Regions from separate parts of the Homo sapiens genome. Here region 2 is linked to region 1. The links come from fine-mapping of genetic effects on gene expression. Tissue or cell type: sun-exposed skin. Region 1 holds a variant in brackets; the other region holds the start of a gene. All regions are shown on one strand. Distances are between the middles of the regions.

Region 1 (5,206 bases):
TCAGATGGGACTTTGGACTTAGACTTTTGAGTTAATGCTGGAATTAGTTAAGACTTTGTAACAGCCGGGTGCAGTGGCTCACCCCTGTAATCCCAGCACTTTGGGAGGCCAAGGCAGGTGGATCATCTGAGGTCAGGAGTTTGAGACCAGCCTGGCTAACATGCTGAAACCCCATGTCTACTAAAACCACAAAAATTAGCCAATTGTGGTAGCGGATGCCTGTAATCCCAGCTACTCAGGAGGCTGAGGCATGAGAATCACTTGAACTCGGGAGACAGAGGTTGCAGTGAGCCGAAATCACACCATTGCACTCCAGCCTGGGTGACAAGTGAGACTCTGTCTCAAAAAAAAAAAAAGACTTTGGGGGACTGTTGGAAGGGCATGGTTGTGTTTTGAAATGTGAGGACATGAGATTTGGGAGGGGCCAGGAGCAGAATGATGGTTTGGCTGTGTTCTTACCCAAATCTCATCTTGAATTATAATTCCCATAATCCCCATGTGTCGTGGAAGGGACGTAGTGAGAGGTTTTTGTTTTGTTTTGTTTTGTTTTGTTTTGTTTTTTTGAGACAGAGTCCTGCTCAGTCTCCCAGGTTGGAGTGCAGTGGTGCAATCTCGGCTCACTGCAACCTCTGCCTCCCGGGCTCAAGCCATTCTCCTGACTCAGCCTCCTGAGTAGCTGGGATTACAGGCACCCACCACCATGCCAGGCTAATTTTTGTATTTTTAGTAAAGACAGGGTTTCTCCATGTTGGCCAGGCTGGCCTTGAACTCCTGACCTCAGGTGATCCACCTGCCTAGGCCTCCCAAAGTGCTAGGATTACAGGCATGAACCACTGTCCCTGGCTGAGAGGTAATTTAATCATGGGGGTGGTTACCCTCACGCTGTTCTTGTGATAGTGAGTGAGTTCTCATGAGATCTGATGATTTTATAAGGGCTTTTCCCCTCTTCACTCATTATTCTCCTTCCTGCTGCCATGTCAAGAAGGATGTGTTTGCTTCCTCTTCCACCATGATTGTAAGTTTCCTGAGGCTTCCCAAGCCATGCTGAACTGTGAGTCAATTAAACCTCTTTCCTTTATAAACTACCCAGTCTCAGGTATGGCTTTATTAGCAGCATGAGAACAGACTAATAGACTAATACACTATATAATTCATTCTTTTAAAGTGTACAAATTCAGTAGTTTTTCATGTTCTTCACAATGGATGTCTATTTTAAGGCATCTGAGATAGTCCAGTCTCTGAGAAAAAATAATCCTCCAAGAGAAGCATTTCTTTTTTTTTAGGCTAGTCAATCCAAAAGAAGCATTTATGATGTAGCATTTCTATTGAGTGTTTGGTTTTACATAGTTAACACGAGTTTTTAAAATAATATATTTGGATTTTCTTTTCATTTATTTTCATGATCAATTTTGGCATTTTTACAGTGTGAGATGAGTCTTTAGGAACAAAATTACAATGTATTATTATATTGTGCCAATAGGATTTGAGTTTACCTTATGATAGCCTAATGTCTGAACTTGGCCCAGGAACAACTAAGCTATAAGTTATTTGCAAACAATATGGTTGTTTACTTTAAAAACTCAAGAGAAGAAGCTGAGAAATTGTTAGAATTCATAAGAGAGTTCAGCTAAATACAAGATAATATACACAAAAATAAACTTTTCCTATATACCAATAACAACCAGACTAGAAAACACAATGGGAGAAAGAGCTACAAACATTAATGAGATACATAAAGGAATGTGGGAATAAACAGAGATTTACCACGTTCCTGGATGAGACAATTCAATGTTGTGAAGCTATTATTTCCAAATTAAACTGAATGTTTAATGTACATAAAATACTAACAGGGTTTTGTCTGAAATGTAAGAAATTTATTCTAAAATTCATCTGAAAGAATAAACAGTTGAAATAACATATATATATATACATGTCTGTGTGTACACACACACACACACACACACACACACAGAATACAGGATAAAGGAAGCCTCACAAATAAACAAGGAAGAGGTGGATTGTTCAATAAATGGTGCTACAGGGGAAGTAAGCTATTATTTGGAGGAAAGAGTTAAAATGTCATGCCGTATACCTAAGTGTATTGTAATTAGATTAAAGAGTTTCATTTAAATCATCAAACCATAAAAATAACAGAATAAACTGAAGGGACTCTCAGAAGATGGGCTCAGGATTTAGAGTCCCTCTGCTTGCAGTTCCTTTGTGGTCTATTCCCTTAAGAGAAAACAGTGGGGCCCTCCTCAGAGCCTACAAATGTTTTTCCTTGGCCCTGGTGCTTTCTAGGCAGAAGCAAGACTCCAACCCAATGGCACAACACTACCTCATGTGCAGCAAAATCAGTGGTCAAGGTCCCTTAGCATTTGTTGAGCTGAAAAGAAATGAATGGGGCCTCTGCTCAGGCATCCCTCAGGTGCCTCAGGCCCAAGCTCACTTCTATTCTGTCGCTGCATAACAAGAAAGTACCAAGAGGGACAAGGGAGAGGTTGGATGTAATGTAGATAGGGGAACAATTCCTTGTTGAGGGAAGTAAACAGACCTTCAGACTCACTGCTGCTGCCAGGTCCACAACTGTCACAGGGAACTCACTCTTTTCAGGCCTCCACAACATAAACCACCACAGTCTCAAGGCACGATGTCTGAGGAAGAATTAAAAACATTGAGAGCCTACATGCTGGCTCCCAAGACCTGGTGGCGCTTTTTCTCAACAACCAGTTTTCCTGTTTTCCCCAGTAACTGGAAGAAAACAGAGCTTAGGGATGGCCTTGGACAGGGAACTGGTGA[A/G]TCAGAAAACACAGCAGTCATGCTGATAGCTAGAGGAGGGCTCCACCCGCTTTACAAACCAACTGCCTGGAGGTGAGCCAGGTAACACAGCCCCAAAGCATCTGTGCAAACAAGTCCTCCCTGAAGACAAGCAGAGTCTGGGAGATGCCTCACTCTTTATCTCCGAGATCTGTCACACCATATGACATATACAGGTCATTATAGCACATGGTGTTTGTAGAGGATTAGCAGTTCAGCAAATGTGTCAACCTGACAAATCACTCAGTGCTTTCAAGTGATCACTACCCTGTTCTTTGGTTATTTTAACAAATGCTTATGGAGTTCCTACTATGTGGCAACCACTGTTCTATTAGGTTGGTGCAACCTAATAGAACTACTTTTGCACTAAGGCTGGGTGCAGTGGCTCATGCCTGTACCAGCGCTTTGGGAGGCCGAGGTGGGCAGATCACGAGGTCAGGAGTTCAAGACCAGCCTGGCCAATATGGTGAAAACCTGTCTCTACTAAAAATACAAAAATTAGCCAGGCATGGTGGCACATGCCTGTAGCCCCAGCTACTCGGGAGGCTGAGGCAGAAGAATCGCTTGAACCTGGGAGGCGGAGGTTGCAGTGAGCTGAGATCACACCACTGCACTCCAGCCTGGGTGACAGAGTGAGACTCTGTCTCAAAAAAAAAAAAAAAAAAAAAAAGGAAAAAAAAAAGAATTACTTTTGTGCCAACCTACCAGATGTTGGGATTGCAGCACTGAATAAAACAAAGACTCTGCCCTCAGAGAGTTTGTATTCTAGTTTAGGGAGGCAGACAATCAATCAAGTAAGCAAGCCACACCATTAGGTAGTGATAAGTACCGTGAAGAAAAATCAAGGGCTCAGTGGGAGTCCTATTTCAGCTGGGGTACTGACAGAGACCCTTCCTGGAAATGTGTTATTTGGATAGAGATCTGAATGAAGTGAGGCAACCAGCTGCCACTGGGGGAAGAACAGTCCAAGCAAAGGGATGAGTAAGGACAAAAATACTGAGAAGGAATCTACTTGGCATGTTTAGGGAACAGCAAGATGGCCTGGTAACTGGCTGAGGTGAAATGAACAGGGGGAGAATGGAAGATGAGGTGAGAGAGGTGACAGGGACTAGATCAAGTAGGACCTCAGGGATCAAGGTGTTGACTTTGGATATTTTTTCTAAGTGAGAGGAGGAATTGTTGGAGGAGTTAAAATGTTTTATTATGAAAGTTTCTAAACAGATACAAAAGTAGAGAGAATAGTATAATGAACCTCCATAAATTCATCACCTAGATTCAACAATTATCAAGATAATACCACTTCCTTCATCTATTTCAAATTTTCTATTTTTGCTGAAGTATTTTAAAGCAAATTTCACCCTTACATATGTCACATCTGAAAAATATGAATATTTTCTTACATAAAAATAAAGCCATTATCACAACTAACAAAATTAATTCTTTGGTATCATCTAATGCTCAGTCCATAGTCAAATTTCCCTCATTGCCTTAAAAATATTTTTTCCAGTTGGTTTATGATGTCCCATAAATTATTTTCATCTAAAGCAGTCCTTCATCTCCTGTCCCTCACTTTTTTCATACCACGGACTTATTTTTAAGAAAAGGGGTCTCATTATGTTGCCCAGGATGGAGTGCAGTGGTTATTAATAGGCACGATCCCACCACTGATCAGCACTGGAGTTGTGACCTGCTCTATTTCCAACCTGGCTCAGTTCACCCCTCCTTAAGCAATCTGGTGGTCCCCGCTGCTCCCGAGAGGTCACCATATCAATGCCAAACTTGTGCCAAACTTAGTGCAGATACCCCACTGGCATAGCACACTCCAGCCCAGAGCTCCTGGGCTCAAGCAATCTTCCTGCCTCAGCGTTCCAAGTAGCTGGGACTACAGGTACGTGTCTCCAAGCCCGGATCCACTGACTTCTTAAAGAAACTAGATTACTGTCCTGTAAAAAGTCCTGGATTCTGGATTTCTCTGTTTGCTTCCCTGTGGTATCTTTTAATTTGTTCCTTTATTCCATTTCCTGTAAACTGAAAGTTAGTCCAAGGCTTGTTTAGATTCAGGATTAACTTTAGAGGTAAGAATAAGTATAGGTAGGTCCTTTATATATATGAAGTATACTAATACTTCATAAGTATAGGTTGCCCCACTTTTAGTGATTCTAAGATTGATCAGAAGTGCAGGTGGTGACAGCGTGATCTTTTCATTGTGACATTCTATATCCACCTTTCACCTCATGGTTTTAGCAGCCAATGATCATCATTGACTGACACTATTATTTCATCAGAGGTTGTACAATAATGTTTTTCTATTTCTGTCATTCCCTCCACACTTATTAGCTGATATGATACAGTATATTCAGAGACATCTCACTTCCATCTCCACCCCCTC
Region 2 (5,131 bases), 70 kb after region 1:
ATTCACAGCTAGAACTTGGTCCCCTTCCTGCAGTCCTGCTCTATGTGCATCAGAGTCAGGAATCACCTGTTGGTAAAGAGAGAATACATGTGATTGGGATGCGATAATTTCAGAAGACTGTCAGTGAAATTCGGTGCTATTCAAATGTATGGTGCTATTGTTTTTCTGTGACAATGTATGCAGACAGATGGCCTGCCAAATGAAAAGTTTTAAGTGGGAAAGGGGGTGTCTCCATTATACCCCTTCTATGAATCCAGAGTCATCCTCTCAGCCCTTGGGACATTAGGGTTCTGCAATCTGTTAATTTAACAAAGGGAAGTAACGATCCATATTGCCTACTGGGCATAAATACCTTGGAGATGAAGATGCCTAGCTGGGAGGCCTTTCCTCCTCGGATGTTAAATCCCAACTGTAAGACAAGAGCACAGAATGGGGGCTCAATGGAGACCACAAACACAAGAACAACTAGTAGCATCATCGTACAATAGCTCAGCTTGTGTGTCCCTGAGAGGAAAGTCAGAAGTTGCAGAAGTGTTATCTCAGCTTTTCTGTCCACAAGAAGGAAAGTTTCCTCACATCTGCACCTGCTTTCCAATCCATCCCCCCAACACTGCCAATTTGTGGTATGGATGAATCTAGCCTGAAATAAGGTTTCATAAGTTCACCTGAGCTCCAGGAGGCTTCTTCAGTGTGATGGTTCGGGGCAGAAACTGGGTCAACTCATTGTTGTAGTCCGGGTGGTGTACCCTCTGCAAGACACAGCAACCCCAGAAATTTTACCAGTCTTACTTCACACCTACCTTCATCTGAAACACTAATGAATTACCCTGAAGTCAGGAAAAGGAAAGGTCATAGACTTAATTTAAGTAGAACAGATAACACAGACTAAATGAGTAGATGGATAGCACTGGGGCAGCCCAGTAGCTCCCCATTTCTTCACCTTTTTTTTTTTTTTTTGAGATGGAGTTTTGCTCTTGTTGCCCAGGCTGGAGTGCAATGGCTCAATCTCAGCTCACCGCAACCTCTGCCTCCCAGGTTCAAGCAATTCTCCCGCCTCAGCCTCCCTAGTAGCTGGGATTACAGGCATGTGCCACCACGCCCGGCTAATTTTGTATTTTTAGTAGAGACGCGGTTTCTCCATGTTGGTCAGGCTGGTCTCGAACTCCCAACCTCAGGTGATCCGCCTGTTTCGGCCTCCCAAAGTGCTGGGATTACAGGCATGAGCCACCGCGCTGAACCTCTTAACAGTATGGAAATGAAGGCTCCAAATTTCCAGAATTAACCGGTGTGAACAGACCCTAGCAGGAGGCTTCCATAAAGAAGTTCCCAATGGGTCCTGTTGCTCAGAATCCAGCTTCTGGGTCCTCTGGCTACAAGTGCTAAGATTCACTCTCCGTTTCGCCTTCTAACCCTGCTATCCTACCTTTCATGCATCATCTCATGCCCACGGGGAAAAAAATCTCCTACTCAGGAATACAGATGGTTCCCACCTCATGAGGAGGAATCCATGCTGGAGGATTCTCATAGGCAGGCAAGAAAACCACCGGGTAGTCATCATAAGGAATCCGGCTGTCCATCTCGGGCAAGGCCCTGGAAGAGTGAATCAGAACAGACAAAAAGTGGTTCAAAAGGGAGAGCAGCCCAGCAAGTTTCAGACAGCAGCTCCAACCCATTCCAAGGCAGTCAGTCTACAGGCCCAGCCCATATCTAGGTGTTAAGGTTGGAGGAGAGAAGGAAGACAGAAGAAAACTCTTAACTTAGCTAAACATCTTCTGGATGCCAAGCAACCTGTCAGGTACTCTAGAAAGAGGACCTCATTTTTCACAATCCTGCAAAACAGATGTTACCGTCTCAAACCTGGAGAAGAGGAAATCAGGGTCGAGTCTAAAAAGATCTACTTTCGAAGCCCAAGGGAGTGTTAACTATCCGCAGGGACTCGGGGCAAGGCACCGCCCCACATTTCCTAGATGTGATTAGTAATGGTAGGGTCCTTAGATCGACCCTTCCTTCACCTGACCAGCCACCTCCCACGTCCCCGCCCCACATTCTGCCTGAGACCCGCACTCTCAGCCGCATAAACGCCGCACCACCTCACCAGTGGGCAGTCCACAGCGACCTCAGACTCCGCTCACTGACAATTCAGTCTGGGAACCGGAAGCGGATGCTCCGCAGGGTCGAAAAGAGGCCGGGCCAGGGTGCAACGAGCTGACCCTCCCCTTCCCACCGCGCCGGCCTGCGCGCGCCGACGTGCGCGCTCCGCCCTCGGGCAGTCCGCACTGCAATTGGTTGGCGTCTCCGGGACGGATTTGAAACTTGGCGGTTAAAGCTCCGGCTGGGACAGGGCGGCGGGAGGCCCAGGGAGAACGGGGAAGGGACATTTAGTTTGGTGAGTTACGGGGGCACACCTTAGCTCAGAACCTGTTTTTACCCAGTACCCTAGGGCTTTGGTTCTTTGTCGCCGTCCCCGTTGGAGTTTTTTCTTTGCCTTTCAGAAGCCCGTGCACTCTCTTTAGAGTGCAGGGCTGACGGGCGGTCCAGCCCTGGCCAAGTCATGGAGCGTGAATCTCCCAAGTCAGTGTTCCCGCTGAGGAGGGTCGGAACCGGGGAGGACGCCCTCCCACCCCTGCTGACCTACTAACATTCATCAGCGAGCCTTCTTTTTCCCCCTCGCAGAGACGGTGCTGAGATAGGATCATGAAGGAAGAGGTGAAGGGAATTCCCGTAAGAGTGGCGCTGCGTTGTCGCCCTCTGGTCCCCAAAGAGATTAGCGAGGGCTGCCAGATGTGCCTTTCCTTCGTGCCCGGAGAGCCTCAGGTGCGTAGCAGAGTCCAGAGCCTGTGTCTGAACAGCTGGGGCCAAATGGTAACGAGGGGTGTGGTCTTGCCTTTCATTTTTAACCTTACGCCTTGTCCCGTGCCTTCTCTAGGTGGTGGTTGGTACAGATAAATCCTTCACCTACGATTTTGTATTTGATCCCTCTACTGAACAGGAAGAAGTCTTCAATACAGCAGTAGCGCCACTCATAAAAGGTGTATTTAAAGGTAAGGCGATTTGATTCCTCGAACGTAACATATATATTCCTTGAGCATATACTATGTGCCAAGCACTGTGCTTGGGCACTGCAAATACAGGAATCGATGAATCATGATTCCTGCCTTCAAGAAGCCCTTAGCCTAATAACATTTGTCAACGTCTCTGTACCCTTGAAGCTAGTTTTATTCTGTATTTGCTTTATGTGGTTCTGTTCATCTTTGACTTGTATATGTTTGTTTATCCTGGAACTTCATTAGATTATAAACTCTGTGGTGGTTGCTGATGGTGATAAGTGTGCCAACCTACTTGAGGCCCAGGCACTGCAAAGCTTGTTGAGGGATTCAGGTGATAAATAATATAGCTTCGAGGCCCTGAAGGAGTTCAAAGTCCAGGGGATAGGAATGGAGATAGATGACTACATAAATAATTTTGAATATATAAAAATTTTTAAATTTTTTGTACCTATCTTTTAGAAGAAAAATTTTTCAAGTTAAAAATATACAACAGAGTCAGTCCTATGGAAGTAGTAGCTCTGCTCTCATACAAAGTGGTATGAAAAACAAAAGGATGGCTCTAACTCTGCTTGGGGAATTTGGGGTGAATTTCACAGAGTGGGAAAACTTTGAGATGGGTCTTGAATAATGAGTATACTTCTTTTAGGTGGAGAAGGGGAGTGCCTAAAGCCTCTGAATACTATCACCAGTTAATAATCTTTACTGGGGAAGCTAAGTCTTTAATGCTGTTGAGGACCATAGCAGGGTTCTAAAGAAGGGAGCAGTGCCTGAGAGATGTCTAATTATTATTCTAATACAGTGGTTATTCAAGATTCAAAACAGAGGTTCGTTTAAAAGAAGTAGAATCATGGCATGCTAGTGCCTTAAAGTTGAAAGAGACATTTGTATATCATCTAGTTTGTTTTTCATCCAAAGAAAAATGCGTTCTAACAATATCTGTTAGGTGAACTGCCAGTGTCTAAAATTTTTTTGACAGGGAACTCACTGACTCACAGGTAGTCCAGTTGAGATTTGGGTTTTGGACAAGTCTAATTATGTTATAAAGATCTTTATAATGAGATGAAATTTGCTTCCTGGTAATTTCTACCCAGTGATGTTAGTTCATTCCTTTAGAAGCCTTCTTCTAGGCAACAGCTATTCACATATTTTTTCACGTTTTTTTGTTTAATGATATGGCTCAAGGAACACTGAAATTTTTGTTTCAAAATTTTAAGATATTAATGCAATAATTTCAAACGTATAGAATGTTGCAAGAACAGCATAAAAAACATTTTTTCCCTGAACCATTTGAGATGAATCATTGGCCTGATAACCCCCCATACTTTAGTGTATATTTCCTACAAAAAAGGACTTTCTTCTAAGTTACCACAATACAACCATCAAAACAATAAAATTTGCACTGCTACATTACTACCATCTATTCCTGAAACCCCATTCAAGTTTCACCAATTGTCCCAGTAAATATTTTATGGCAAAAAGATCTAGTTCAAAATCACGTTTTATTTAGTTTTGCTGTCTCTTTAGTCTCCATTCTAAAACAGTTCTTTAGTCTTTTTTTGACTTTTATGAGTTTGACACTTTGAAGATTACAGGCCAGTTATTTTGTAAACCTTTTCTCAATATTGTTTTGTCTGGCATTTACTTATGATTAGATTCAGGTTGTGTATCTTTTAGCAGGAATATCACAGAAGTGGTGCTGTTTTCTTCTCACTGAAGCCTATTGGGCAGCACATGATTTTGATTTATTCTATTACTACTGATGTTCATTTTGATCATTTGATTAAGGTGTTAATCTGCTGGGCTTCTCCACTATAATCTTTTTCCTTTTTACATACAGTATTTGGAAAACCGTTAAGTGTTTCTACCTAATTCTCTTCAATTATCCCCGCCTTTCCTTTAGCCATTCCTGAAACAATATGCTTTTCAGACCCTGCACTATCTGGTCAGATTCCTCAGGCTATACCTCCACAGCTTAGTAAGAGCACCACAGTTCTACTTTTACATTCTTAACTTGGGAAACTGATAGAATTAAATTATGTTCTTTAAAGGCAACATAAAGTAGAAAGTGATTCCAATATACATGT

Direction of the effects. Positions count from the first base shown, and alleles are read on the strand shown. Sizes are in standard deviations (SD) of each study's normalised expression.
As copies of G replace A in region 1, the expression in sun-exposed skin of the gene that starts at base 2,163 in region 2 goes up (small effect, 0.11 SD a copy in GTEx).

What was found. PIP is the estimated chance that this variant, and not a neighbour inherited with it, causes the effect. A credible set is the group of variants that fine-mapping cannot tell apart.
Region 2: it holds the start of PDZD11, and the variant in region 1 is the best candidate, but not a certain one, in a credible set for the expression of PDZD11 in sun-exposed skin (GTEx, PIP 0.85).

The regions. Positions count from the first base shown.
Region 1 is chrX:70,217,592-70,222,797 of GRCh38, forward strand. It overlaps the pseudogene RN7SL581P. Among named protein-coding and RNA genes, the nearest start is that of AWAT1, 14 kb to the right of the region's middle. The variant A/G (reference allele first, on the strand shown) is at 2,800.
Region 2 is chrX:70,287,765-70,292,895 of GRCh38, forward strand. PDZD11 (PDZ domain containing 11) reads right to left here and starts at 2,163. Exons shown (of 7, transcript NM_016484.5): 1 at 2,096-2,163; 2 at 1,491-1,590; 3 at 666-749; 4 at 353-409; 5 at 1-66. The coding sequence starts at 1,577. KIF4A (kinesin family member 4A) reads left to right here and starts at 2,340. Exons shown (of 31, transcript NM_012310.5): 1 at 2,340-2,386; 2 at 2,674-2,814; 3 at 2,927-3,041. The coding sequence starts at 2,695. RefSeq lists a silencer at 2,141-2,320.